Linked DNA regions of Homo sapiens: region 1 is linked to region 2. The links come from fine-mapping of genetic effects on gene expression. A gene starts in region 2. The other region holds a variant in brackets. All regions are shown on one strand. Distances are between the middles of the regions. Region 1 overlaps FBLN7 (fibulin 7). Region 2 holds the start of ZC3H6 (zinc finger CCCH-type containing 6).

What was found. PIP is the estimated chance that this variant, and not a neighbour inherited with it, causes the effect.
Region 1: its variant is fine-mapped to the expression of ZC3H6 in whole blood (TOPMed, PIP 0.99).

The regions. Positions count from the first base shown.
Region 1 is chr2:112,158,534-112,170,253 of GRCh38, reverse strand. It overlaps FBLN7 (fibulin 7), which reads right to left. Exons shown (of 8, transcript NM_153214.3): 2 at 10,419-10,578; 3 at 5,083-5,253. Among named protein-coding and RNA genes, the nearest start is that of FBLN7, 26 kb to the right of the region's middle. RefSeq lists an enhancer at 1,437-1,950. The variant C/T (reference allele first, on the strand shown) is at 6,041.
Region 2 is chr2:112,270,940-112,282,659 of GRCh38, reverse strand. ZC3H6 (zinc finger CCCH-type containing 6) reads right to left here and starts at 7,063. Exons shown (of 12, transcript NM_198581.3): 1 at 6,634-7,063. The coding sequence starts at 6,665. It also overlaps the pseudogene LOC124906182. RefSeq lists silencers at 1-141, 6,294-6,773 and enhancers at 6,964-7,173, 6,789-7,361.

The sequences.
Region 1 (11,720 bases), 110 kb after region 2:
TTGTTTTGTTTGAGATGGAGTTTTGCTCTTGTCACCCAGGCTGGAGTGCAATGGTGCGATCTCAGCTCACTGCAATCTCCGCCTCCCGGGTTCAAGCGATTCTTCTGCCTCAGCCTCCCAAGTAGCTGAGATTACAGGCGCCTGCCACCACACCCAGCTAACTTTTTACATTTTTATTAGAGACGGGGTTTCACCATGTTGGCCAGGCTAGTCTCGAACTCCTGACCTCAAGTCATCCATCCACCTCGGCCTCCCAAAGTGCTAGGATTACAGGCATGAACCACCGCGCCTGGCCCCTTCTTCCTTTTCTTAAAACAGTGTCTGCCCTGTGCTGCCCAACTACCTGCTCTTTGCCTGGCTAGATCCCATTCCTCCTTTCATCTCAGTGTCATTGTCCCCTGCTCAGAGGCCCTCAACTGCTCCTTGCCCCGTGCTGTTTACTCTGTCCCTTGTTAGGTCATGTGTGGCCCTCACCACAAACGTCAGCTCGCTTCCCTTGGTGTGTGGCTGCCTGCTTTGCTTTGCCTCCCCTCTTAGCCTGTGCACCCCAGAGGCCAGGGTCGTGTCTGTGGGATTCGACATTGAGTCCCTGGCATCTGGCACCAGCTTTGTGAATGGCTGGTGCTCAGTAAAAATTGGCTGAATGAAAGAATGAAGGTTAAAAATAAAGGGTGGGGACGACTGACAAAGATTCCTTTCCACCAGCATGACGATAAGTGACAACGGTATTTATATCTCTCAAATTCGTTTCTTTGGTTACCCACGTTGTCAAAGGCACAAGATCTTCAGCTATGGTTACCAATTCAGAAAGCTTTACGTCTTAAAAACATGGCCTTCAGAGAAAGGAGGAGGAAAAAAGGAAAATAAAGGAGAAATGGAGAAAGCCAAGTGGCTGCTTTCCACTCTGGAGTTCTGGAGTCCACCTACGCCTGCTGTTTTTTTGTTTTGTTTTGTTTGTTTTTGTTTGTTTGTTTTTCTCCCGAGACGGAGTCTTGCTGTGTCACCCAGGCTGGAGTGCAGTGGTGTGATTTCGGCTCACTGCAACTTCTGCCTCCCAGGTTCAAGCAATTCTCCCTGCCTCAGCCTCCTGAGTAGCTGGGATTACAGGTGCCCACCACCACGCCTAGCTAATTTTTGTATTTTTTAGTAGAGATGGGGTTTCACCACGTTGGCCAGGCTGGTCTTGAACTCCTGACCTCAGGTGATCTGCTGCCCTGGCCTCACAAAGTGCCGGGATTACAGGCGTGAGCCACCGCTCCTGGCCTGCCTGCTGTTTTTTAATGGCGTAATTGTGTACACACAATTTCCTTCCCTGCCAAGTTGGGTTCATCACTGTCTTTCCAAGCAGCTGACTAGAGTTGGAGTGAGGGACAATTATGACAGCACTGCCAAATTTGTCACTGGCACTGATATTTTGGGCCTTGAAATGAATTCTCTGTAATTAAGAAGATTATGCCCCACCCCCACTCTGTGGTCATAACACATGGCAACCACACGACTGGTGGTTTGGAACATGCAGTGGGTGTGCTCAGTGGTTGCTGGTAAGTTTCTAGGTTTGGTCACTAGATTGTTGAGTTCCAGCCTGTGTCCCGTCCACACCCTTAATACTGTCACAATTGGTCATCAAACAGCAGTCAGGAGCACTATTTCTCCCTCCTGGCAAGTTTGGCTGACACCGCTTTGAGGCTCTTGCTGGAGACAACAACCATGAATCACATCAATTCCTGCTGAGAACAGAAGTGTCGGTGCAGGCAGAGTCTACTCACTTAGGAGGGGCCGTGGCCAGCAGCTGCTGGAGCAGCTTGGTTGTAACACATGAGTATTTTTGTTCAATCACCACCATGGGGTCAATGCCCAGGCCCCATCTATGCTTCAAGAGAAGAAAAATCTCCATCTAAGATCTCATCCTGGACTGGCCATCACCTTGTTCCCTGAGTTAGTCCTTCCCAAGTTTTTGATAGCACATGCTGTCTGAGTAGGCATCCCGAAGGTGGGCTGCATCATGCAGCTCTTTGGTGTGGAAGTCAGGGTAGAAGGAAAAAGGGCTATGCAGGAGGCTATGGGGAGATGAGAGACGAGCACAAGGTGCATCTGGAATGAACTGGTACGTCCAAGGGCAAGACTCGGGAGGATACCACGTTGGACCACGGGAAAGGTCAGTAGGCTTGCTGGACGCCTGGCAGGTGGGACCGTCTGCTCTGCACCATGGTCCTCCAGGCAAAGTCCGCCCTCCACATCTCAAGAAAGGGAAGTCTGCTCAGCAGGGCTGTGGGCTCTGATCTTTGTAAGAGTTGGCTTGGCCTTCCCAAAACATCAGGGCAAGTAGCAGTGAACATAACATAACATAACATAACATAACATAACATAACATAACATAACATAACGTGTCTTTCCTGGACAGAGATGACACACATACATCTGTCTACTGTTTTGCCTGTGGCTGGCAGTCATTCTGACTGGTTTGGGCCCAAAATGCATTAGCACTTCAAAATTTTCAATATATTTTCTGCTTCTGGCAATAGCAAGAACGAACCAAGTGGTGCTTCTCAAAATTTAGTTAACAGCAGTATTACTTAGGGAACATATTAAAAATGCAGATGTTTTGGGTCTCATCTATAAAAGTTCCGACTGGATCGGTCTTTTGAGACCTCAGAATCTATCTTTCATGAGCTTCCTGGGTGACTCTGGAGGACCTGAATGTTTGAGATCATGGCACAAGTTAGGACACGGCAGGACCCTCTTTTCCATTGAGGGGGTCCTGCTGCAGCGAGGCAGGTGCAAATGCATAACTAAAGCAACCAAGGTCAAGAAGGAAGCTCGTGGACACACCCAGGATCCTCTAGAAAGGCATTCTTGGCGAGCCACTAGGATGGAGATGGACTGTGGGGAGCGCTTTGGGTCTCCACCTTTGTCAAGTAACCACATGTTCCTTTGCTTGAGTCACTTCTCACGACTATGTTCCTGGGCCTCCAGTGTTTTGTATCTATCTCCCTAAAAAGGCATTCTTTCTGCTATCATCTCTGATGAACTCATCTTTTCATTTTAATCACATGATGTGCATTGTAGTATGTCGCCATTGAGGACAGAATATTTGGATAATATCTGAGCAAGCAAGAAAAAACAGCACACACATAAGTAAGATGTGCTTTCGCTTGCAGCACCGCTTGGGGGTGCGTGGGCAGGTGCAGCCCTTCTGCTGAGTGGCAGGCAGTGCTCAGTTCAAAGCGAGCCTGAAGCCAGTAGGCCCTCTCCAGCCACAGATACACAGCCCAGAGACAAAGTAGGGCGATAAGAAGGCCTTGTCAACATTGTTTGTGGTGGCCGGGAGTTGACTGCAATCAGGTGCCCATGGCAGGGGGTGGACAGATCAGATGTGGGGGTGCACCCCAGAGAGGACGAGGCAGCTATCAGAGGCACTGGAGCAGACTGCACGTGGCAATGCAAATGGGTCCTGAAAGTGCGGAGTAGACCGAGAAGGAAACCAACCAGGGTCTGTAACTCAATCTGTAAGTTAAAAATACTGACACCCAAAACAATAAAAATGAAATATCTGTGTGTACCCATCTCCCCCGCCATGGGTTATCACCCAGGAGGTGCTTAACCTGGCTTGAGATCTTTCAGAGTCAAGTAAGTAAATACCAGATATTGGCATTTCCCCTGTTTTGTTCGCATGTTACATGACTTTTACTTCCTGACTGGTTCCTAGGTGGGTCTGAGAGCCAGTCATCAACCTTTGAACCATCATCACTCTTTCCAGGGGTCAGGAAAGAGAAGCCTAAATTGTAAATGTGATTCTGGTTTCCCTGAGCTTCTCATGGCAATCCATACTCATCTTTAGGGATGGCATACTTTCTGGAGTTCCTCTATGTTTTCAAGTAATTTAAGCATCCAAAGTCCTCTCTTGGCCAGGTGTGGTGGATCACACCTGTAATCCCAGCACTTTGGGAGGCCGAGGCAGGCAGATAACTTGAAGCCAGGAGTTGGAGACCAGTCTGGCCAACATGGTGAAATCCCTTTTCTACTAAACATACGAAAGTTAGCTGAACGTGGTGGTGGGCACCTGTAGTCCCAGCTACTCAGGAGGCTGAGGCAGGAGAATCGCTGGAACCCGGGAGGCAGAGGTTGCAGTGAGCTGAGATTATGCCACTGCACTCCAGACTGGGCAACGGAGCGAGACTCCGTCTCAAACAAAAACAAAAACAAAAACAAAGTCCTCTCTCTACTCTGCTTTTGCAATCTTCTTGTTTATATAATGTCCGTGTTTCTCCTTCAACTCTTTGGCTAGAATCATGGACATTCTGCCTCAGCAGATGTCCCACGAACCTTGCTCTGAAAATGACTGGTGAATGGTAGCCAAGATTTTTTTGACCATGGGTTTTTGAAAAGCCAACAGATTTTTGTGCCAAGGCTGATTTTCCTCTATATCAAAAAAGTGCTGTTTTTAAACCTAGCACAGAGAGAAGCCTTCTCATGCCTCCCCGACACAGTGGACTCTCCTGGAGCCTCTTGATACCAAGTCCCAATGCAGACAGAAAGGACACCTGAGGAGTTTCCTCAGCCCCAGAGGTTACCAGCAGCCTCACAGACAGACTGCAGGCCCAGAACGGAGCAGCCACAGCAGCATCATCCTGCAGTACCTTCCTCTGGTCCCTTTCCCCAACCCATGAGCAGCTTCTTGCCCTCACATTGATAAGAACAAGTCACTGGTGTCCAGAGCAGAGAGTGGTGTGAAGGAGCGCAGACTCTGGGGTCAGAGTGTCCAGGTGCCAAGCATCTTAACTGTGCCGCCCACCCCCTAGCTGTGTAACCTTAGGCAAGTTCTTGAACCTCTGTGTGCCTCAGTTTCCCCATATGCAAAACAAGACTAAATTATTGTGAAGATATAGTGAGCTCATACAGATAGAGACCAGCGCCAACCTGGCATGGAGGTGAGTGATCAGGCACATTGGCTGCTGTTCTGTGGTTGAGGAATGATTAAAGAACCAAGCAGAAAATGTTCCAAGGAATGACCCTTTCTATGCAAGAAACCCTTGCTATACTGTGATGGGTCCAGCGCAGTGGGATGGGAAGGAGAGACGATACCTCTACAGTGGGGCTGCTCCCCTGTCCAGGTGCCATTGGGAAGACACACCACGCTGCTGGGCCCGACCAGCCGGAACCCAGGGTTGCAGGTAAAATGGACTTCGTGATCCACTAAGTACTTGCTTCCAAACTTTCTGCCGTCTGCGGGGGTGTTCAGAGCCGGGCAGGAAACTGTAAGGAGAGATGGAAGGATTACGAGCTCCTCATCCTGGACCACAGCCCTTAGACATTACTGAATTACAGGACTTCCCATCTCGAAGTGCCCTCTGTTGCATGCCTGCTGCAGGCTGTGCACTGTGCTGGTCATTCTGCATGCTGCGTCTCATCAAGTCCTCAAAGCTCTCTTGGGGATGGGTGGTACGATGCCTGCTTAGCAAAAGGTGATGAGACTGGGGCTCAGAGACACTAAGTGCTGTGTGCAAGGCCTCGAAGCGTGGGAGGCCCACCCTGCAATGATCCGCTTCATCACTGCCACCTACTCACTCTGATTTTCTGGGGCTCCAGCCCCCCTGGGTTTCTTTAGGTCTCCTGAACAGGCCGGGCTCAGCCCCAGCTCCAGGCCTGGGATTTTGCTCTTCTCTCTGCCTGGAATGTTCTTTCCTCAGAGCTTCCACAACTGGCTCCTTCTCACTCTCCAGGTTTCCACTCATATGCCACCACCTCCCCGCGTGTTCCCTGGCCACCGTGCCTAACCCAGACCTCCCCAGACACTCTTCCCCAGGTGCTCACTCTGCTGTCTTCTCAGTATCTGTAACCATCCGAACTTTCTTATTGACTTGCCTCTTTCTAGATATGCGGTCAGTCCTCTCCATCAGAATGCATCTGGCCTATGTTCCTGTGTATCCCCAGCACCAGCCCACTGCCTGGCACATAGTGAATACTGGATAAATCATAAATCATTCTTGAACAAATGAATGAATGGAGCCTTATTTATTGCATCTTTACTATGTGCCAGGCA[C/T]TATATTAGGGACTTAGGCAGGCACTATATTAGGGACTTGGGCTATATCCATGAACAAAATAGACAAAACCCAACCCTCAGGAAGCCCACCATCTAGCAGGGGAGATAATAAGCAATGGCGAAGTGTGGGGCCATGTAGAAAATGAAAGCAGGGAATGATGCTGGAGATGCTGGAGAGAGGGCATCATTTTGAATACAGTGGTCAGGGCAGGCCTCACCAGAACGAGTTGAAGGTGAAGGCACAGCCAGACAGATGTCTGGGGAGGGCAGAGGGACAGCTGGTCAAACATCCTGAGGTGGGGATGTGCCTGGCAGGTCTGAGGAATGTCAAGGAGGCAACAGGACTGGAATAGAGTGGACGAGGTGGAAAGTAGTTAGACATGAGTCAGGCAACAGGATCAAGACAGCTCAGAGTTACACGGGGCATTGGAAAGAAAACAAAAAGGCCATGCAACTTGTTCTCCGTGTGAGACCGGGCCTCTGGAGGTCTCTCTCAGCAGCACTCCTGCTGCGGTTTGATTGTGAAGTGCCCGTACAAGAGGAAGGGGAGGGAAGCTCAGGCCAGGGTAGTAGCTGAGCATGAGGGACATGGTTCGAATCCTGGCTGCTCTGTGAAGATTTCCCGAAGGACTGATGTGGTTGGAGAGAGACGGGGTGAAGCTAGCCTGTTCCTCTTCTTTTTGCAACAGAGCATCACGCATGGGCGACGAGGGAATGCCCAAAGTTAGGATGGCTTGGATTTGGATTCAGTTTAGATGGAAATTCAGAGCCACTTCTAAAATGCATTTAAGGTAAATTCCAAGTGTCATTTGCCATGTTCATATTTTAAACAGGCACAAACAGAACTGTTGCTTCAACTGTGCAGGTCAAAGCAAGTGACAGAGTCACTGAGCATCCCCCATGAGGATGCACTGATCAGGGGTGTCCTGGACCAGAGGCCATTAAGGAGCGTGATGGGCCTCCCTGTCCAGGAGTGCAGCTGGCAGGATGGTGTAGCCCTGCCCAAAATCCCACCTGGGCCGGACACAACCTAGGGTTCTTTGAGGAGCAGCCGTGGCAGCCTGAGCTGGGGCGGAGGGAGGTGCCGGACCCTCCGAGGATGCTCGGTGGCCTTTGGTGATTGGGGAATATCTGCCCATTGCTGCATCGCCTTCCTTGAGTAAAGCTCCAAGTTGGCCCCCAGTGGTAATAACCTTGTGAGTAGCAAGCGAGTGAGAGCTCACATCCCAGGACTCGGCTGCTCCCGGGGTTCTGCCTCAGCCTCTGAAATAAATTACTTTATAGTTCTTTTTTTTTACATCTAGTACTTTATTGCGTTAAAGAGTTTTAAAATGCATTGGGGGAAAATAGTAGGGTCTCTTTGGGGATGAAAAATCTTTAAAAACCTCGACAAAAGAAAACTACCTGCAACTCACAAATACACCATACCTGAATAGATTGAACAGTATCTGGCACTTAATAGATGCTTAATAAATGTGAATGGAGTGGATTAATGGATACAAATTAATTAAAAATCAATTTGTAGTCACATCCCAAATGGGAGCTGAAGGCCCTTCTCTAGTGACAGAAGGGGAACGTGTCCTTTGGTTGATTCTGTTGGCGAGAAGCACATCCTACTGAGTGTGCAGAGCCACAGCGAAGCTCCCTGCGCCTTCCGAGGTGAAGTTAGCATGTAAGGAGTGAGACCCACAGTTAAGCAGTCTCAGCAACATGGGGACATGAATCCGCTGAGGCTGCTCTGGATGAACCCTGAAGCTGATGGGTTGTGATGATGCACCCAGGAAACAGGAGGGAGGTACTTCATATGGAAGCCAGAGAGGAAGACCAAGAATTCTCCAGAACTGGAAATTATTCTTCCTGACTCCCAGCAAATTCCCTTAAAAAAAAAAAAAAAAGGCAAAACAGGCCTGGCACAGGAGCACCCGCCTGTAATCCCAGCACTTTGCGAAGCTGAGGCTGGAGGATCGCTTGAGCCTGGGAGTTCAAGATCAGCTTGGGCAACATAGTGAGACCCCATCTTTACAAAATTTTCAAAATCAGGTGCAGTGGTGTGCACCTGTAATCCTAGCTACCTAGGAGGCTGAGGTGAGAGGATCGCTTGAGCCTGGGAGGCTGCAGTGAACTAGGATCACTCCACTGCTCTCCAGCCTGGGTGACAGAGCGAGACCTTGTCTCTCTTTTAAAAAGCAATAAGGTAGTTTTCCCACTATGTGCCATTTGATCTGGGCAGGTGTCTGGCTTTCCTCCAGGTGCGGGCCCAACCCCCACCACACCCTGAAAAGGGATCCTGACAGCTGCCTGTCCTCTGCAGGGCTGTCACAGGATCAGCCTCTGCACGCATAAAGTACCCAGCACGGGGTCCCCCACACACTTAGAAATACAATACATGATGGCGATTTTTTAAAAAGAGAATTTGGCACTTTAAAAAATGTTGTACATTTCAGAGATGAAAGCCCCTGAATCTTGGGAAGGAGGATGAATAATGTAATAATAACTGCCTTTCTATCTGTCTAGCGGGCAGGGCCCTCTCACATGGGCAGGGCCCTCTCACATGGGCAGGGGAATTGTATAACATTCCCTGTGGGCTCCACTGAAACTCCCAGGGACCGCAGGCAGCTCTGACCCCATGAAAACAAGGAAGGCTTTGTGGAGTCAGGCCTTGACCGCTAACTTACTTGTCTTGGCCTCAGTTTCCCCATCTGAGGCAGGAAGGAAAGACACCCTGCCTGCACCATGGAGTTGGGGTGTGTGGAGCCCCAGTGAGGGCTTGGGCCTCACAGTGCCTTGGAAAGTGTGAGGCTTGGCTGGTGGTTATTTCTGCAGCTGTGGAGCCAAGGAAAACAGGAACGGACTCAGTGCCGTTGAGAGCTGGATTTGCCACCATCATCTCCGAGAAGGTAGGAAATCCAACGCCTTCCCCAGGAAACTTCAACTCACTCAACAAAGACAGCCCTTGATAAATGTGTCTGCAGTGAGTAAATGATGTCAGATATTCCACAGGCTCCTGACTTTGAATGAACATGATGACTGGCCCCTGTCCCCCAGCACCCTAAGACACCGGAGGAAAACCAGCCGCCCATCTCTGGGTCTTGGCGGTGTGAAAGCTGTTACAGGGCAAGCATGAAAAAGTGCCCTTGTGTCTGTCAGAGTCCTGCCCTCATGGGAGGGAGTCTGGGGTGTCGGCTGTAGCCTCATCAGACAAGTGGAACTTGTCCTCAGCAGCCCTTCCCTCCCAACCGTCCTGGTACTAACGGGGACTCCCTGGAGGGTGCACTTTCACGCCTGAAGCACTGGAGCCAACCTTGGTCATGGACTGGAACCAGTGTATTGCACTGGCTCGGGCTGAGTGTGTGTGTGTGTGTGTGCGCGTGTGCGTGCGTGTATGCGTGCTTGTGTGTGCGTGTGTGTGCGTGCGTGTGTGCGTGTGCGTGCGTGTGCGTCTGCGTGTGCGTGCGTGTGTGCGTGCGCGTGTGTGCGTGTGCGTGCGTGTGCGCGTGCTTGTGTGTGTGCGTGCGTGTGTGCGTGTGCGTGCGTCTGCGTGTGCGTGTGCGTGCGCGTGTGCGTGCGCGTGTGTGTGCACGCACAGAGGGTGTGGAGGAACGCAGTGCTTTCCACTCAACTCTGCTATGAACTTAAAACTGCTCTAAAAAATTATCTTAAAGTAAAATCAAAAATGAAAACAAAACCAAAACTGGATCCAACTTGTGGACGGGGAAGGGAAAAGCAGTGCGTGATCTAAAAGTGGCGCCTTGCAACAGTTTGGTCCGTATGAAGACGTGATAGTTGTTAAGGCCAGAATGAAAAGGCTGAAGAAGAAAAGGGGTGACATTGAGGCTGAGGGAGAAGAAAGGGGGCAGCTGCCTTTCTAATGTGCTCCCCCCACCCCCACTGCCACCAACCAGGCTTACAAATGGGCCACAGATTGGCCCGGCGCGGTGGCCCACGCCTGTCATCCCAGCACTTTGGGAGGCCGAGGCGGGCGGATCACGAGGTCAGGAGATCGAGACCATCCTGGCTAACAAGGTGAAACCCCGTCTCTACTAAAAATACAAAAAATTAGCCGGGCGTGGTGGCGGGCGCCTGTAGTCCCAGCTACGCGGGAGGCTGAGGCAGGAGAATGGCGTGAACCCGGGAGGCGGAGCTTGCAGTGAGCCGAGATCGCGCCACTGCACTCCAGCCTGGGCGACAGAGCGAGACTCCGTCTCAAAAAAATAAATAAATAAATAAATAATAAATAAAAAAGGGGGGGCCACAGTTGGAAGATGGAAGGTGATGGGGGAAGGGTGAGGGGTGACGAGGGGCCTCCAGCTGGGAGCGTCTCGGGGAGAGTGCTCGAGTGCTGCGCTGCCGCCCCAGCGGTGCCGACGTGGGGACCCACCTGGAAGGGCATCTGGGCCCACCCTGCCCACAGAGTTCTGCAGCGCGGCCAGCCGGCTCTTCATGTGGCGGATGCCCTCGGCGAAGCGTGTCTCCTGGCCCTTCAGCAGCTGCTGCAGCTGGCGGATGGCCGAGAGGAGCTGCTGTTTGCTGAGACAGTTCTGCGGAGAGAAGACATCGCCGCCACCACCCATTGAGACTGACTCAGTCCCACATGCTTGTCTGAGCTTCCGAAATCGCCGAAGCCACGGGGTCCAAACCGCGTTTGAAGCTCACTCAACGCAACGTAAAAGTGACCTGCCGCTGGACAGCCCCAAGTACATGCATGGTAGCCCCAGTTCACCCCTTGACAAAAACAAAATGCAGGCAGGACGGATGACTCTAAATGACCGGGTGGATGAACAGTTATTTGAACCCAAAGAGCCTTATAATCACCACGCTGCCACTCTGAGAGATTCTCTCTAATTCTTCACTCTAAGTTAATGCTCTGAAAACCCTGGGCCTTGGCAAACATTTTCTTTCTGTCACTCTTAGACATTTTTAAAAGCAAAGGGCCAATAATACATGTAAAACAGGCAAAACAGGAATGCCCAATGGTTCCTATTCTTTAAAGACATATAACATGGGAAATAAGAAAAAAAAAAACTCACTAGAGTTAAAGAGGCATTCAATAAAAGTCAATGTTCAGTTCTGATGATTTTTTTTTTAAGCCATAGAAAGGCAGAAAATGGAGGATCATGCTTATCATGATAAAGGCTACCTAACTTAAAGCAGCATCAAGCATCATACTTTTTGTTTGCTTGTTCAAACAACAGAAACTTATTTCCTCACAGTTCCGGGGCTAGAAGTCCAAGATCAAGGCATCGGCAGTGTTAGTTTCTGGTGATGTCTTCTAGATGGCAGATGGCCACTCCCCGGAGGTGCCAGCATTCTACTTAATGCTAAAATTCTCAAGGTTTCCTGGCCGGGTACGGTGGCTCATGCCTGTAATCCCAGCACTTTGGGTGGTCAAGGTGGGTGGATTGCTTGAGGCCAGAAGTTCGAGACCAGCCTGTGCAATATAGTGAGACCTCATCTTTACAAAAAATTTAAAAATTCAGCCAGGCTCGGTGGTTCATGCCTGTAATCCTAGCACTTTGGGAGGCTGAGCCGAGCGGATCATGTGAGGTCAGAAGTTCGAAACCAGCGTGGCCAACATGGTGAAACCCAGTCTCAACTACAAATATTTTTAAAATTAGCCGGGCATGGTGGCAGGTGCCTGTAATCCCAGCTACTCGGGAGGCTGAGGCAGGAGAATCGCTTG
Region 2 (11,720 bases):
GTTCTCTTGTGATGGGAATGTATATGCTTAGATAAGAGAGTGGGCTCTGGAGTCAGGTTACTTTGAGTTCCCACTGACTTACTTTGTGATCTTGGGAAACTTACCAATCTGTTGTCTGTTTCCTCATCTGTAGAAAGGGTGCCTAATAATAGGACCTATTTCCCAGGGTTGTTGTGAGGATTAAACAATTCATGTAAAGCACTTAAAACAGTACCTGTCACATAGCAAGTGCTAAACAAATGCTAGCCTGGTTATTATTTTTGAACATGAATTAACATTCCTGTGTCTGATCGCTCTGACACTGATCAGTTTCTAAATCTAAAAAAACTAAAGCAGGGCCACTGTGTTTCACAACTCCGGGGGCATCAATGCACAAGAGAACAGAGTTCTCCGGCCGCTCTGAACTGATGGCATGACCTGGTGAATTCAAGGTCACCCACCTGTGAGGTTCTTTTTGGTAGCCAATCTGTCCAGGTGAAAACTTAAGAGTCATAAACCTAAAATGTCTACCCTAGTGAGGCAGATCTCCTAAATAAGTGAGGCACACCTTGAGTGGTGAGTTTGCCAAGAAACTATGAATGATAAGACTGTGGAGTGTAGAGCACAAGTCAAGCCTTAAATGCTTTCAAATACAGATATTTTAAGATATTCTGTCAGGCAAAAACAACAGTATAGGCAGATTTTAGGCCTGAAGCCCACCAGTTTGCAAACCCTGCAGCACCCTTTCATTCAAACCTTAAAATATTTTAACTTAGGATAATGTACATCCTGTGACCTATTTTTAACCTTTATTTTTCTTTACTGCTCTGTGACTATCCCTTCTTTTCTCCTCCCTTGGTTTCCAAAAACTTCTGTGCTCTTCTCCATACCTCTTGACACACATACCTTGAGTGGTATCATTCATTTCAACTAACATTTCAATCAGCTAAAAATTCCAGATATTTATATCCAACTCTATCAATGCTAAGAAATACCTCATGAATTGTGCCTACTTTCTCATTGCCAATGCCTTTGGTCAAGTCCTCATCTGATTTCTAGACGTTTACAATAGCTTTGGTTCATTCTATTCTCTCATTGTCCACATCCAGCCACCAGTAAATCCTATTGGTTCTAAAACCAATCAAACCATATCCACAATCCAACCATTTTCACCTAAACCATCATCATCTGTTACCTAAATTACCACAGCAGTTCCTTTTACTATTCATTTACCTCATTTACCATACTACTCACTTACCATATACCATAGAGGATCCTGTCCCTCCTCTGTTTAATCCCCCATTAGCTCCCAGGTCACTCAAGAGTGAAATCCCTTGTGTTTTCCTCAATCATACCAGGCTCATTCCTGGTCCAGGCTTTCTCTACCTCCCACTCCCTTTATATGGATGCTCTTTCCTCAAATGTCTTGGGTCTGAATTGTTGTCTTGTATCAGGGCTCTTTGCTCAAATGTTACTCTTTCATAAGTGCTTCCCTAAACACCCTCCCCACATCCACTTGACTCCCCATCTCCCTTTCTGCTTTATCACCATTGAACACATCTGTTTTTCATGTTTATTTTCTGTCTCTCCCAAGAAAATATGTTTCATTACACCAAGTTTTTTCTTTATTGCTGTATTCCTGATCCTAGAACAATACATATTAAGCTTCATGTTTAATGAAAATGACTGAAAAGCTTCCTAACTTGTCTTCCTTCTACTGATCTCCCCTTCTGTAGTCCATTTCCTCCTATCCCCCAGGTAGTATACCAAAAAATGCATCTGATCATTCTCCTGCTTAAAAGACTTTGATGGGATCCCCACATCCTTCAGGGTCTGGCCCCAAATTTAATCCGTTTCCCCATTCCCCAAAATAGTTGTACACTCTCCACATACTAACACTTTTATCATCCCTGAACCTACTTGTGCCATTTATCCATGCTTTTCGTGTATCTCTGTATTTACTTGGCCAAAGTTTTATTCATCCTCCAGGTCTAGTTATGCCATGATGTCTCCCAGAAGCCTTCATCTGTGTACCCCCACAGCACTCAGTTCAGGCCTCCATTATAGTACTTGTGCTATACTATGTATTTACCAATCTGTTTCTGCAACTAGATTATAAGATCCCAGAGAGCAAGTTCATGATGTTGTGTCCAGAGTTCTTTTGTCAGTGCTTAACACTATACTTAGCAGAGACGAAACACTGTTAAGTCTGAGGAATGAAAATGTAATGAATGAAATTTTATAATGAATGAAATATTTGTTTATGAGAGGTTGGGGGAAAAAAAGAGTCTTCCTGAGAGTCAGAGTGCTTTACAACATCAAACCTGAGACCTGATACGAGGTTTTACATTTGCTAAAGAAAAATTTCCTTTAGTAATTTCAACAATAGTTAAATTAGTGGATTCAGGAATCAGAAGTAAGTTAATGGCTAGTCAGGAAAGTTATTTACTCCACGGAACATACTAATTTACAAACCAGATATTGTGTGGAGCAAAAAGTGTACTCTAATCTGAGAAAAGGCATCTGCAATTTTTTTAATTAAAATTGATTTAAGTGGGAAGGAAAATTGAAAATGATCTAGTGCAACTACTTCATTTCACAAATGAAAAAAATAATGAAAAGGGGAAGAGCATTAACCCAAGTTAGAAGATCAGGATCAGTACCAAGGTTTTATTCAAAATGAAGGGCTCTCTCTCAAATGTAGCACATTACAATTCCAAACTACTCAAGGATTAAAGCCCAGAACTTATTCCATTACTTTGCTGTGCAAACTTAATGAAGAGTGAAGATAATATTGCAAGTAGGAAAATAATATTGCAAGACTGAAAATAATAATACCTGGGTTCTTATCTAGGTTGTATTTATGAGATCTCAGACAATTCACTGAACCTTGTAATGCTACCTTAATTAACTACCACATGGGATTAATGTGAGAATCAAATGAAAGCCCTGTTGCAAATGAAAAGTATAATCATCTTTTCCATCCTCATCCTTTCAGGTTCTCCAGTGCAGTCTCTTAGCAAGTTTTCAATCTATATGGGGGGCCATAAACCACTTGCAATTCTGACTAGTTGGAGTTTTGTTGTTCTTGTAGTACAGGACAGAAAGCTGCGAGGGAAGGGTGGGGAGGTTGTTTATGTATTATAAACCTCCTCCCAAAGGGGAGTATTATCCATATCACCTATCAGTTAAAGACTCTTTGAGACTCACAAGCTCTTAAAAGGTTCATGCTAAAAAATTATCTTTTTCCCCAGTACAAGCCCTACAAAACCTTTTACCATTAGTATATTTCAGAAAATTCTGTAACAATTACTTGGGTTATATTTATCTTTTCCTACTCTACTACAGATGTGTCCAAAGCAGGGACTCATAGTATTTCGTCTTCAGGAGTTGTGAATTGTTTTAATTGGGTCAACATCCAGTTGAAATATAAAACTGAGCGGCTGGAGTCGTGCCTGAGAGAACTGAATGAAAAAGAACTGAACGACGAGAGACCAGAATTATACCTCCCTCTGATTTCCCTAAATCCCTAAAGACCTTTAGAAACTAGGCTCTGGGCTTATGCAAAAGTCCTCTACTACATTCTACATAGCCACAAGTAGAATTAGAAGTATTTTTATATTAATAACATCTTATAAAATACAATGTTTTAACTCCAGGTGTGAAAATATTTAAAGGAAAGTACACTAAATGGATTTTTTTTAAATTATTCATTTGGCAAACAATCTTGTGCAAAATGTTCACTATATAACATGTACAAGGCCAGGCGTGGTGGCTCACGCCTGTAATCCCAACACTCTGGGAGGCTGAAATGGGAGGATGGCTGGAGCCCAGGAGTTCAAGACCAGCCTAGGCATATAGCGAGACTCTATTTCTTTAAACGAGAAAAAAATTATGCATTCTGTGAATTCCATTTACATTTAGAATCTCATTCTCATAAACAGTAATATTTTAATTTGTATAAAATCAAAGCAATTGTAAATATAAATCATAGGCTTCATTTTTTTTCCTGCATACACAATATGCCTTAATTTTTGAAAATGTTATAAAAAGAATATCCTTGGCTGGGCACAGTGGCTCACCCCTGTAATCCCAAAACTTTGGGAGGCCAAGGCTGGTGGATCACTTGAGGTCAGGAGTTCAAGACCAGCCTGTCCAACATGATGAAACGTGGTCTCTACTAAAAATACAAAAAATTAGCCAGGTGTGGTGGCGGGTGCCTGTAATCCCAGCTACTCAGGAGGCTGAGGCAGGAGAATGGTGTGAAGGCGGGAAGTGGAGCTTGCAGTGAGCTGAGACAGTGCCACTGCACTCCAGCCTGGGCGACAGAGCGAGACTCCGTCTCAAAAAAATAAAATAAATAAAATAAAATCCTTGAGACAAAGCCTAGCTCCATATACCAAGTTTCATATATTTTTCTCCACTTAATTCACAGAAACTTTTATAACAGCATAAAATAGCTATTATATGGAAAGATACAGTATTTTGGAAGCCCGCAGATTAGTCCATTTTTTCCCCAAATTTCTTAAGAATTTCCCAGGGAGCCTATGAAAAATACCCTAGAGATTCTGATTCAGTTGCTCTGGGCAGAACAAAAATTTATTCCCCAAAGTGATTCTGATGATTAACTATCATTGGGAAACACTGATCGAGTATAGCGGTTCTCAATTTGGCACATATTAGAATTTCCTGGGGAGCTTTTAGAACTCTTAAAACCCAGGCTGAGGTCCAGACCAACAGAAATAGCGCCAATACTTTAAAGAAAAAAAGTTCCCCAGGGAAGGTTTAGAACCATTGATCTGATCTTGTAGAATTTCTCCTGACTTCTAGTTCACTTTGTTTTTGATGTAGTTGTTTTGTTTTTCATGTGGGTTGACAAAAAAAGCATGAAAAAAAAAAACCATCTCCTTCATCTCAGCACAATGATGCCACTTAACAATTGGCTAAGTTAAAGTGGAGCTAACCTTTTTGTTTCAGAAATCACTAGAAAATACTTTTAGTCCGAATTTTAAATAAAATAGACTAATCTTAATCTTTAGCTCCTACTACCAACCTATTAACATATCTTACAAATAATTCTTTAAAGTTTTCTAACCTCTAAACCAGTATTTTAAAATTTCAAATTCTTTAAAAGGTCTGTCATCACAGTTCCTTACCAGCAAAATTATTTTGATACTTGAATTTGATGGCATTGTTTTTTCATGATGTACAATACATAACTCCATATATAGAAGTTACTTTGTGCACTAAGAGAGGGGAACAGATATTCTTCCATATTAAAAAAAAAAAGGATTTTAGGCTCCATTAGCAAAACCCCATCATTGGTTTGTCCATACCTCAAGAGCAAGGTATTAGTCAACCCATTCTAAGAATTTCCTTTTTAATACAAAAGATAACGTTAAAAAAATCATTAAAAATGTGCCAAGTGCAAGCTTATCATTTTTAAAAGTGCATTTTACTTTCCAAAAATTTTTACACTTTGATTGACGTGCCCTCTGGGAATCTACTTTTATTATTACAATACTGAAGTTGTTGAAATACCATTTTTATCCCTCTCAAGATTGCTAGGTATTTAGATATTTCAAATTTCAGCAGTGTTTGTGATTTTTGCTTCTGGGTTTTAAAAAACGTGTTTAGGATGCTTTACCAAGCCGATCACATTACTACAGATAAAACTTCAGCAATGTATATAGTCTATAGTAAAACGTATATTTTTTCTTACTTCTATTCACAAAGGAGTAATTGTGAGGTTCTAGATTTTCAAATTAATATTCTAAGTAAGAATCAGATGCAATGGATTTTGTTTCAGTAAGTTTAATGAATGAAAGCCCCCCTTTCGCATTATTAAAGATATATACGAATGAAAATTTGAATTATAACCAAAATTTAAGTATGCTACAGTATACTTTGTAAATGTCCCCAAACTCGAATGGAAACAAGAATGTGCCTCTTAAGGCACAGAGCAAAAAATAAAAAATCAGAATCTCAATATTCAAGTGATACACACCATCTAGAAAATTGGGCTAGCCGGAATAATCCATGGAGTTTTTACGTTAGGGTAAAACTGTGCTAAACTAAGTTTCTGCAAAGCCTAAGTATTTTGTGTTAACATATTAAACTTGAAACTTGCCATCTCAAATTCCAAGGGATAAGACTGTATACAACAGATGGCCTTTTGGTGCTGCTTAAAACTTCCCTGAAAACCAAATGTTTATTTTTTTAGAGGTGTTCTCGGTTCTCGGGAAGCAGTCAAATATCAAAACACCCATTCCTGAAAATTCCTGGCTGGTCCTATCTGGCCGGGAGCACCGACACCTGGACGGGCAGAAGCAGGACCTCAGCACCGAGCCGGGACGCTGAGAGCCGCCCGGCGCACACGGAGCCCGCCCGGGGGGCGGGGGGCTCGCACGTGCCCGGCCGGGGGCGGGGCCGGCGCTGGCGAGCAGCGACCCCGGCTCGGGGAGGCGGGCGCGGCCGGGCCGACCTCCCCCGCGGCCGCGATCCAGCAGTTTACATAAGAGTGCGCGTCATGGAACTGACGGAGCCACACAGAGACGTCTAGGTCATGCAGGAGGCGCCCGGCCCCGGCCCGCTCCCGCCGCCCCAGACCCCTCCTCTCATCCGACAGAAAGACAGACAAGAAGGGTTCCCGACCTGTCGTGCCCTGCATGTTCAGAGTCTGTCATGTTTGGTCAAGAACGGGGCGGGGCTGGAGGGCAGGTCTGCGAGGCCGGCGGCGGCGGGGCGCGGGGAAGACCCCCCGCGCCGCCTGCGGGAACCTGCTCCCGGCCGCCGCCGACAGGTGACGAAGTGGTAAAAACTCACGGTTACTAGTGAGCGACACAGACACAGACTTTCCAGTCTATTAACAACCACGCCAGAGAGATGGGGCTCTAACTGCAAACACTGGGCAACGGCCCCGCGCTGCCGGCGCTGCCGCTCTAGTCTCTATTCGCCGCCGGTGGCTGTGGCGTGGGAGCGGGCGGGCGGCGTGCAGCGACGCGGGGATTTGGACAGTGGCCGTAACGGTGATTTCTCCTCACCAACATGGCGGCACCCGAAACAGGCGGCTCGAGAAAATGGCGCCGGCCGCAACACCTTGCCCGGGACTAAAGGGCAAGAGAGATTCCTCCGCGAGCCGCGGCCCTTGCCCAGCCCGCCGGGGCCGAGCGCGTTGACCATTGGAGGAGAGTGCCCGTCAATCACCTGCAGGGGCGGGTCTTCGCCCTTCTCTGTGCAGCGGCGGAGGCGGCAGCCTAGTGGCGGGGCCGGGCGGCGAGAGACGCGGCCGGATGGCTCCTCGAGTGTCTGCAGGAGGGGGAGGCAGCCCACGGGACCTACGAGGGCCACCAGCGCTTCTGCTCCCGGCGCAGTACGGGCCGCGGTTTTTCCTGCGAGACGCCCGCCGCCCGAGGAGTTCCAGACGCACCAAGCAAACGGGCCCCAAAACCGTTAGCCGAGGCGGGCAGGGGTGGGATAACAAAGAACAAGGCGGCTGTAGAGTCCTTAAATTTTTTTGTGAAAACCTTTGTTCTTGTAATAATAGGGAAATGCAGTTTCTCCTTCACAGTTGTAGCAAGTATCTGTTTTTGTAACGTTTAGTGTTCAGAATCATGTTTTAAGGAAAATAGCTTGCCATGCAGTTTTTTCTTGTATTTGCTGTTAAATTTACCCAATTATTACTTAAATAGGAATAGCTATTGAAATAATTATATAAACGTTACTTTATTTCGTAATAATATTAACATGTAAAATGTATGCGAGTATTTTATAAATACTATTAGGCATGCCTTTTTTTTTTTTTTTTTTTTTTTTTTTTTTTTTTTTTTCTGAGATGGAGTCTCCTCTGTCGCCCAGGCTGGAGTGCAGTGTCGCGCTCTCGGCTCACTGCAACCTCTGCCTCCTGGGTTCAAGCAATTTTCCTGCCTCAGCCTCCCGAGTAGCTGGGACTGCAGGCACGCGCCACCACGCCTGGCTAATTTTTGTATTTTTAGTAGAGATGGGGTTTCCCCATTTTGGCCAGGCTGGTCTCGAACTCCTGACTTCAGGTGATCCGCCCTCCTGGGTCTCCCAAAGTGCTGGGGTTACAGCCGTGAGCCACCGCGCCCGACCATGCATGAGTTTTTTATACTTATGAAGTGACCTTAAAAAATTTTTAAATGACAAGTCAGTGTTTTGGCCTATTTAATATATTAGTCCTGAAGGAAAGTTCCTTGCTTTTTACTAAAATGATAGACTCAATGATTAATCCAAATATCTGACTTAATTTGTCTTTCCTTAATAATACATTTTACTAATACATAAATGGAATGCATTCAAAAACAATTGCAATGAGTGGATTAAATTGGAAATGTAAAGTTTTTGATATTAACATATACATTGAAAATAAAGGCCGGGCGTAATGGCTCACGCCTGTAATCCCAGCACTTTGGGAGGCTGAGGCGGGCAGATCACCAGAGGTCGGGAGTTCGATACCCGCCTGACCAACATGGAGAAACCCAGTCTCTACTAAAAATAAAAATAAGCCAGGCGTGGTAGCCCATGCCTGTAATCCCAGCTAATCGGGAAGCTGAGGCAAGAGAATCGCTTGAACCCGGGAGGCGGAGGTTGCGGTGAGCCGAGGTCGAGTCATTGCGCTCCAGCCTGGGCAACAAAAGCGAAACTCCGTCTTAAAAAAAAAAAAAAGTCGCCCCTTTTTTTTTTTTTAAAGTTGAATACAGCCAGTGACAGGAGCTGTGGTCGCACTATTTTTTTTTTTTTTTCAGTTGAATGCAGCCAGTGACAGGACCTGTACTTATAGCCACACTTTACCATAATAAATTTGTAGGGAGCTTTCAAAAGGTACTATGAAGGTACTATGAAGAAACTATGTTAACATTTGGAGTTACATTAAAATCTCAGGACTTCGGTTTTATCGTAACTGTTTTAGTTAATTTAGGCCTTTCTGTAGCTAATTTGGGTAACTGCTTTCTTGAAGTTATCCAGAGGCCCTTGTGGTAAACAGTTGCTGTTCTTTCTTGCACTTCTGTTTTCCCCTGTCTCCTGTATCTGGAGGTCTGAGAATTTCTTTCAAGCCTTCGTTAAGGTGTTTGGTTTGTGATGGCGTAGGACAGTGCAGTTCTCTCTGGATGAAAAGCCTCCTTTTCGAACCGTTGGCATGCGCCACTTAAGTTTGATGGTAAAATTTGTCATCAGGTCTTGGTCTTTTTCTCTAGGTAACAGAAAGGGGAGGTGTGTGGGGGTGAGCATTGAGGGGCAGTGCTCCTTTGAGGCTATGGGTTTTTAGAATCTAGAAGTGCTTAGAGATCTGTGACACCTTGTCTTTAATTGCCTCAGTTAAGGAGCAATGTAGGTATCAAAGAGATTACACTAATTAATTTTAAACCTAACAGATTTTACCTAATAATGACATATGGATCATGAGAACTGCAGAACTCTTGTCACGTAATGACCTTGTCCAAACCTCAGCAAAAGGAGACCACCAAACTATAGCGAGCCTTGTAGCAGCATAAGGTCGTGTTCGTAGGATGACCGCAGATCTCTCCCCGGGCCTCTCGGTTAAATGTCTCCCAGAGAAAACTCAACACTGCCCACCTGGCCATAGGCCCTTGACCCCCTTTCTTGGAGCATTTACAAAAAAAGAGCTTACAATTGTGAGTCCTTCCTCTGTCCCCTTGACACGTATGTGTTCTCTCCTACAATTCAGGAGTATCTTTCTTAAGGACCTGAAAGCCATTCCTTTGAAATTTAATCATCTGGAAGGTTGCTATCTCCCATTCTTGGTGGGAGGGTAGAATCCTGACTTCAGTGATAATCGCCAGCTAGCTGACGCAGCTGATCTAATCACTTTTATACTGACAGACTTTGAAATGTTTTGCATGTATTCCGGCTCTTTCCCCCTCCCTTATTCTCTCTTTAAGCTGCTCAATTATCTCTGCATTGAAATGGAACGCTGCTCTTTCCCCTACTGTTAGTAATTACTGAATAAAATTGGTTTTCACCACTTTAATGTCCAGGTTTTTTTATCTTTGTCAACCTTCCCCACCCTCTATCCACACAAAAATTGTAACGGACATAAAGGTACCAACACTTTATTTTGCTAAATAAATTAAACATATTAAACATCTTACGGTTATTTCATAAAAGACATTTTAACATCAAGAAAGTAGGAAGGATATCATTATTTTTGTTTCGTTGGTTTTTGTTGGGTTTTTTTTTGAGACAGAGTTTCACTTCACAGGCTGGAGTGCAGTGGCACGATCTCGGCTCACTGCAACCTCTGCCTTCTGGGTTCAAGCAATTCTCATGCCTTAGCCTCTCGAGTAGCAGCTAGCATTACAGGCACGCACCATCATGCCCGCTAATTTTCGTATTTTTCATAGAGACGGTGGTTTCTGCCATGTTGGTCAGGCTGGTCTCTATCTCCTGACCTTGAGTGATTCATCCGCCTCGGCCTTCCAAAGTGCTGGGATTACAGGCGTGAGCCACCGCGCCTGGCCAAGGATATACTTTAAAAAGCCAATTACTTTACTTTGAATTCCTTTACATTTAGTGTTAAGAAAAATTCCTTTTATTGCCCGTGTTTTGTCCCAGATGGTAAGAATAAGCCCTGGTATACCAAGGCTCCCAATATTGGACCACTAGACATTCGGAGACTGGTCAGACTTGGGACAAAAACGGTCTCCTAGGTGATCATCCTAGCTGGAAGATTAGGGGACCCTTACCCCATCCTTCCTGGTAGCTTATACAAACCCTAAATGTATATGTGGCCCTAGGCAGGGGGAGGGAGCCCCAGTTACAACTGTTTTCTGTCTACCTACCGGAATAGGGGCTTAGAGTTAGAATTAAATTGGCAGGAATAATTCCCCGTACAGTACACACTGAGGTTACAAATGAATACTTGTGTTAGTCACTGGAAAGTTTTTAACACACACACACACACCCTAAAAATACAAGCATCTGAACAGTAGCCATGTCTTTGAAAAAGTACTTTTATTTTATTTTAAAACAGAGTCTCACTCTGTTACCCAGGCGGAGTGCAGTGGCATGATCTCGGCTCGCTGCAACCTCCACCTCCTGAGCTCAAGTGATTCTCCTGTCTCAGCCTCCCGAGTAGCTGGGCCTACAGGCGTGCACCACCACACCCGGCTAATTTTTGTATTTTGTAGAGACGGGGTTTCACCATGTTGGCCAGGCTGGTCTCTAACTCATGACCTCAGATGATCCGCCCGCTTGGGCCTTCCAAAGTGCTGGGATTACAAGTGTGAACCACAGCACCCAGCCTGAAAAAGTACTTTTAAAATGTTGCCTCCAATTCTTTTGCAGCTCATAAGCATGATGATTAGATTTTCATGTGCACGCGTGAGATGTGCCTCATCAAGCCTTGTTATGACCTCAGTACATCCAGATGTGCTGGAGTGCAGTGGCACAATTATAGTGCTTAGTGATCTGTGACACCTTGTCTTTAATTGCCTCAGATAAGGAGGAGTGTATGTATCACAGATATCACACTAGATAATACAAGAACTAGAACTGCAGCCTTCCACCTCAGCCACCGCCATCACCCGCTGTCCACACCCCCCCACTGCCCCAAGTAGCTGGGACCACTGGTACACTCTATCACATCTGGCTTATTTTTTGTAGAGGCGAGGTCTTACTATGTGCCCAGGCTGGCTAATTTATTTGTATTTTTGTAAAGACAGGGTCTCGCTGTGTTATTTAGGACTCATTTCTCTTAATAC